2 separate regions of the Homo sapiens genome follow, and region 1 is linked to region 2. A link means that fine-mapping ties the variant in region 2 to the plasma level of a protein whose gene starts in the linked region. Region 2 holds a variant in brackets. A gene starts in the other region. All regions are shown on their forward strands. Region 1 holds the start of PTX3 (pentraxin 3). Region 2 overlaps ITIH2 (inter-alpha-trypsin inhibitor heavy chain 2).

What was found. A credible set is the group of variants that fine-mapping cannot tell apart. PIP is the posterior inclusion probability: the model's chance that the variant is causal. Protein levels are from antibody-based Olink assays in UK Biobank. Linkage for the fine-mapping came from a reference panel and not from the study's own genotypes, which makes the PIPs less certain.
Region 1: it holds the start of PTX3, and the variant in region 2 is the best candidate, but not a certain one, in a credible set for the plasma level of the PTX3 protein (UK Biobank, PIP 0.52).

What each region holds. Positions count from the first base shown.
Region 1 is chr3:157,435,507-157,438,395 of GRCh38, forward strand. It overlaps PTX3 (pentraxin 3), which reads left to right and starts at 1,344. Exons shown (of 3, transcript NM_002852.4): 1 at 1,344-1,557; 2 at 2,007-2,408. The coding sequence starts at 1,428. The region is part of intron 4 of VEPH1 (ventricular zone expressed PH domain containing 1); the gene reads right to left.
Region 2 is chr10:7,730,637-7,733,475 of GRCh38, forward strand. ITIH2 (inter-alpha-trypsin inhibitor heavy chain 2) reads left to right here. Exons shown (of 21, transcript NM_002216.3): 13 at 1,175-1,360; 14 at 1,702-1,841. Among named protein-coding and RNA genes, the nearest start is that of ITIH2, 29 kb to the left of the region's middle. The variant C/G (reference allele first, on the strand shown) is at 1,759.

The DNA.
Region 1 (2,889 bases), not on the chromosome of region 2:
GTAGGTAACCCTGTGAGGGTCCTGGCTTTCATGAGGATCTCCCTTCTAACTCTCCACCTTTGGCCTAAGCTTTGCTTCCACATGGTCATCAACATTTGGTGGTTATAGAACTAATAACCCCTATCTCACTTCACTCCTATGCCAGAGGGGCCCTAGCATCAGCTCATGGGATTGTTGTTTTTGCTTTCCTCTCTATCTTTGGCTCCGGGATTTTCCCCTTACTTTAATGGGAGCTCATCTGTACCTTTTAAGTTTTTATTAATATCATGTGAACACAGACCTGTATATATTGTTAGAAGCAGAAATCTCTAAGTTTACTTTTAAAACATGATCCTTGCCTCGAAACCTTGTAGAATAATATAATGTCCACATAATACCAAGTTATGAAAAGAAACATACCTAAATAACTAAATAAGTATATTCCTTTTTTCCCCCAGCTTTTTTTCCCCATTCTAGGTTTACCCAGTTGTACTGTGTTGTTTGTCATAGGCCGGGTGAGGTGGCTCACGTCTGTAATCCTAGCAATTTGGGAGGCGAAGGCGGGTGGATCGCCTGAGGTCAGGAGTTCGAGACCAGCCTGGCTAACATGGTGAAACCCTGTCTCTACTAAAAATACAAAAATTAACTGGGTGTGGTGGCGGGTGCCTGTAATTCCAGCTACTTGGGAAGCTGAGGTAGGAGAATCGCTTGAACCCAGGATGCGGAGGTTGCAGTGAGCCGAGATCACACCATTGCACTCCAGCCTGGGCAACAAGAGCGAAATTCAGTCTCAAAAAAAAAAATTATCTATAAAAGTATAGGTGCAACTCCTCAAGTATTAAAGACAAGATAGCTCGGATTGGACTTGACTTTCAGAGCCATAACTATTCTTAATATGTTGGTTTATCTTGGAATCAGACCATTTTCAGTTTCAACCTGTAAAACAGTGTACAAAGGAAACATGGAAAGTTTTCTATATATAAAGGGTTGTGAAATAATAACAGCTCACAGAAAATGCTGAAATGATGATTTGCTTCAGTACCCTCTGAAATTTCTCCCCTACCACCCCTCCTTCATCCCCATTGCTATCAATTCAAATTACAACAGCTAATTCTCAGGAGAACAGTAGAAGCCCAGTTTCTCTCCTCTTTCCCCTCTGACCCTCCTCCAATTAATCTGACTGCAGCGTAAACCTTTGCGGTTTAATATTGTGCAACTTCCACATTTCCCTCGCTCTCCCACCCAGCCCCCTCCCCCACCAAATTCAGGGGAACTCCCGTTACCGCAGTGCCACCAGCATTACTCATTCATCCCCATTCAGGCTTTCCTCAGCATTTATTAAGGACTCTCTGCTCCAGCCTCTCACTCTCACTCTCCTCCGCTCAAACTCAGCTCACTTGAGAGTCTCCTCCCGCCAGCTGTGGAAAGAACTTTGCGTCTCTCCAGCAATGCATCTCCTTGCGATTCTGTTTTGTGCTCTCTGGTCTGCAGTGTTGGCCGAGAACTCGGATGATTATGATCTCATGTATGTGAATTTGGACAACGAAATAGACAATGGACTCCATCCCACTGAGGACCGTAAGTTCACTTTAACTGTTTCTCTGCTAACCCTGACTACATATCCACCTCTTGGTCTAAATAACACACATATACTTTGTGGCCAGTGAGACAAGTTAAAAATTTATAGCTTGTTATGCAAAAGTGAGAAGCACTTGAAGAAAGATGGAGGTTTCAAAGTTATTTCTGTAACGTACATAATGGGTTGAATCATATCAAATCGTCAATATTTGACTGTTTTGAGCTACATAACCGGCGATTTCATAGGGTACAACTTAATCTATACCTGAATGAATGATTTCTGTCGTTTCTGAGACATTTACATGCTGTTTTTCGGAGGTGTCCTTAAAGGGAAGGGGAATGCCAGGAACGGGCTGCAACTTGGCACCACCGAGGGAGGTCAGCTTTTACAAAGCACATCCAAGGCAGGCCTGGGCGGGCTGCTAACGTGTGTGTATCCCGTACTCTAGCCACGCCGTGCGCCTGCGGTCAGGAGCACTCGGAATGGGACAAGCTCTTCATCATGCTGGAGAACTCGCAGATGAGAGAGCGCATGCTGCTGCAAGCCACGGACGACGTCCTGCGGGGCGAGCTGCAGAGGCTGCGGGAGGAGCTGGGCCGGCTCGCGGAAAGCCTGGCGAGGCCGTGCGCGCCGGGGGCTCCCGCAGAGGCCAGGCTGACCAGTGCTCTGGACGAGCTGCTGCAGGCGACCCGCGACGCGGGCCGCAGGCTGGCGCGTATGGAGGGCGCGGAGGCGCAGCGCCCAGAGGAGGCGGGGCGCGCCCTGGCCGCGGTGCTAGAGGAGCTGCGGCAGACGCGAGCCGACCTGCACGCGGTGCAGGGCTGGGCTGCCCGGAGCTGGCTGCCGGCAGGTAAGGAGGCAAGCGGGGCCGGGACCTCCCACTGCGGCTTTGTTCCGGGAGCGCGCGTAACGGCAAGCCAAGCCAGGCAACCTTCTAGGGGAAGCTTTCATGGGAAGCGCGCGCGCGCGCGCGCACACACACACACACACACACACACACACACACACCCCTATTTCTGCATGCGCGGTCACAGAGCTCAGGCACACCATACAAGGCGGGAAAATTGGCTTTAAAAAAGTATTCCTCAGTCCTAAGGAGCCCTAAAGAGAGTTGTGGAGGTAACCATCACAGTCTTGAAATAGACGTCTAGGGCCCCTTACACCCGATCCGACTAAGCGCTGCAGGAGTCCACTGGCCCGTTATAACCGTGATCCCTCTTGCCGCCCAGCTTCCCTCCGTTAGGGATTTCCACGTCTTCTAATTTTATCCTGCCTCTGTCTTTAGAGGAGCTCTGGTTTCCCGCACTATTTCAGGGCCCAGGCTAACGTTT
Region 2 (2,839 bases):
TAGTGAGATCCATCTGTTCAACAGATAATTTTTTTAATTAAAATACATATATTGAAAAGACACAAACTACTTGTTTGTTTTGATTAAATAGATGAGAAAATGATGTAGGGAAAGAACATGTTTTTCCCTGCTCTTTGTCAGTACCAGGCATCGTATTTAAATTTGGGAACAAGTAAGAGATAAGATTCTGATTTGGGGACTATTAACCCAGCTGACTTTTGTAAAAATTTAATTATTACTATTATTTTTTGAGACAGAGTCTTGCTTTGTCACCCAGGCTGGGTGACAAGTACGTTCAATGGCAGTGCAATGGTGTGGTGCAGTGGTTCAGGAGTGCAGTGCTGCGATCTCGGCTCACTGCAACCTCCGCCTCCTGGGTTCAGGCGATTCTCGCACCTCAGTCTCCTGAGTAGCCAGGATTACAGGCATGTGCCACCAGGCCCGGCTAATTTTTGTATTTTTAGAAGAGACAGGGTTTACCATGTTGGCGAGGCTGGTCTCAAACTCCTGAACTCAGGTGATCCGCCTGCCTTGGCCTCCCAAAGTGCTGGGATTACAGGTCAAGCCACCATGCCCGACCTCCTGCTGACTTTTATCATAAGTTTGTCCAAGAGTTTTTCACGCTGACCGTAACAGAAAGGGAAAAAAATGCCAGGCTCTTAAACCAAAGGTAATGTTCTCAACAAGTCTTTGTCTTCTCTCTGTTTTTAATCTGATAATTACGAGCATTTTCCCTTGTCCCAAACGTCCTGTGTGAATAAATTAAGAGGTATCTGCTGATTCTTTGAAGAATCTCAGAGTAAAATGTTTTAGATCAGCTGGGCGTAATCCCTGTAATCCCAGCACTTTGGGAGGCCCAGGCAGGCAGATCACAAGACAGAAGTTCAAGACCAGCCTGGCCAAGATGGTGAAAACCCGTCTCTACTAAAAATACAAAAATTAGCCGGGCTTGGTGGCGGGTGCCCGTAATCCCAGCTACTTGTGGGGCTGAGGTGGGATAATTGCTTGAACCCAGGAGCCGGAGATTGCAGTGAGACGAGATCCCACCACTGCACTCCAGCCTGGGCAACAGAGTGAGACATCGTCTCAAAATAAATAAATAAATAAAATAAAATGCTTTAGATCTACAAAGCAGTAGGAACATAATTTCTCTCTCTCTCTCTGTGAATTGTAGAAATTCTACAACCAGGTCTCCACTCCATTGCTCCGGAATGTTCAGTTCAACTATCCCCATACATCAGTCACGGACGTCACTCAAAACAATTTCCATAACTACTTTGGAGGCTCAGAGATTGTGGTGGCAGGAAAATTTGACCCTGCTAAATTGGATCAAATAGAGAGCGTTATCACGGCGACTTCGGTACTTCCACTTATCCATTTATTCTATCTACTAACTGACCCCCTAGATACAGTCCCTCTTGAATGTCAGCTCTGCCTGCCTGGAATCATGGGTGTAGAACAGAAGCAATCAGTGATGGAGAAGGCATGAGAATATCTCTGCCATCTTCCCAGCTATTCCATAAATCCTGACCTTTTCACCCAAGCCCAATCCCAAGCACAGGAATGCATTTCCTTCCTCCGTAGGCTTTGCCTTCCATTTCTTTTTTATTCCCATTCATTCGCAGCAGGTACTAAAAATGTGAATCAATGAACTATAATTCTGTTACCCAGTGTCTCTCAACTGAACCTTCCATCATCTAGGCTAACACGCAGTTAGTCTTGGAGACCCTGGCCCAGATGGACGACTTGCAGGATTTT[C/G]TATCGAAAGACAAGCATGCAGATCCCGATTTCACCAGGAAACTGTGGGCCTATCTAACCATCAACCAACTGCTAGCTGAACGGTAAGAAGAGAAGAGTACCCACACCACGAGATCTGCAAAACTGAAATGTCCACCGTGAATATATGAAGTCATACACAAAAAGAGTTTGGAAGCAAGAAAGACAGCACATTAGCACAGGCTTGGATTATTACCTTCCACTAGTTCTGAACACTTCAGAGAAAGCTGGGTTCACTCTTTTTCTTCTTTATTGAGGTATAACATACAGTAAAGTATGCAAAATGCATTAATTTTTTAATTTTTATTTTATTTATTTATTTTTATTTTTTTTGAGGCAGAGTCTCGCTCTGTCTCCCAGGCTGGAGTGCAGTGACGCCATCTCAGCTCACTGCAAGCTCCGCCTCCCGGGTTCACACCATTCTCCTGCCTCAGCCTCCTGAGTAGCTGGGATTACTGGTGCCCACCACCACGCCCAGCTAATTTTTTTGTATTTTAGTAGAGACGGGGTTTCACCATGTTAGCCAGGATGGTCTCGGTCTCCTGACCTCGTGATCCACCCGAGTGGGCCTCCCAAAGTACTGGGATTACAGGCATGAGCCACCGCACCCGGCCAAAATGCATTAATTTTAAGTGCACCATTCAATGGATTTTTATATCTATCATCCGTGTAATCACCACCCAGATCCAGATGTAGGTTCCCTTGTTCTCCCTCAACACCCACCCCCCTCCTCCACTGTAACCACTCTTTCAATGTCTGTGATCATCAGTTTTGCCTGATCCTAAATTTCACATAATCATGCAATCTGTATTCCTCTGTTCCTGGCTTCTTTCACTCAATATGATGTTGGTGAGATTCATCCATGTTGCTTCATGTATCAGGCATGTATTTGCATTTACTGTCTCGATCTCCTGACCTCATGACCCGCCTGCCTCGGCTTCCTAATGTGCTGGGATTACAGGCATGAGCCACTGCACCCAGCCCTGCATTTACTCTTGAAAATGGCTTCTTGTCCAAAGAGAAATTGATGATTATTAACGATTATGGTGTTCCCTAAGGAAGG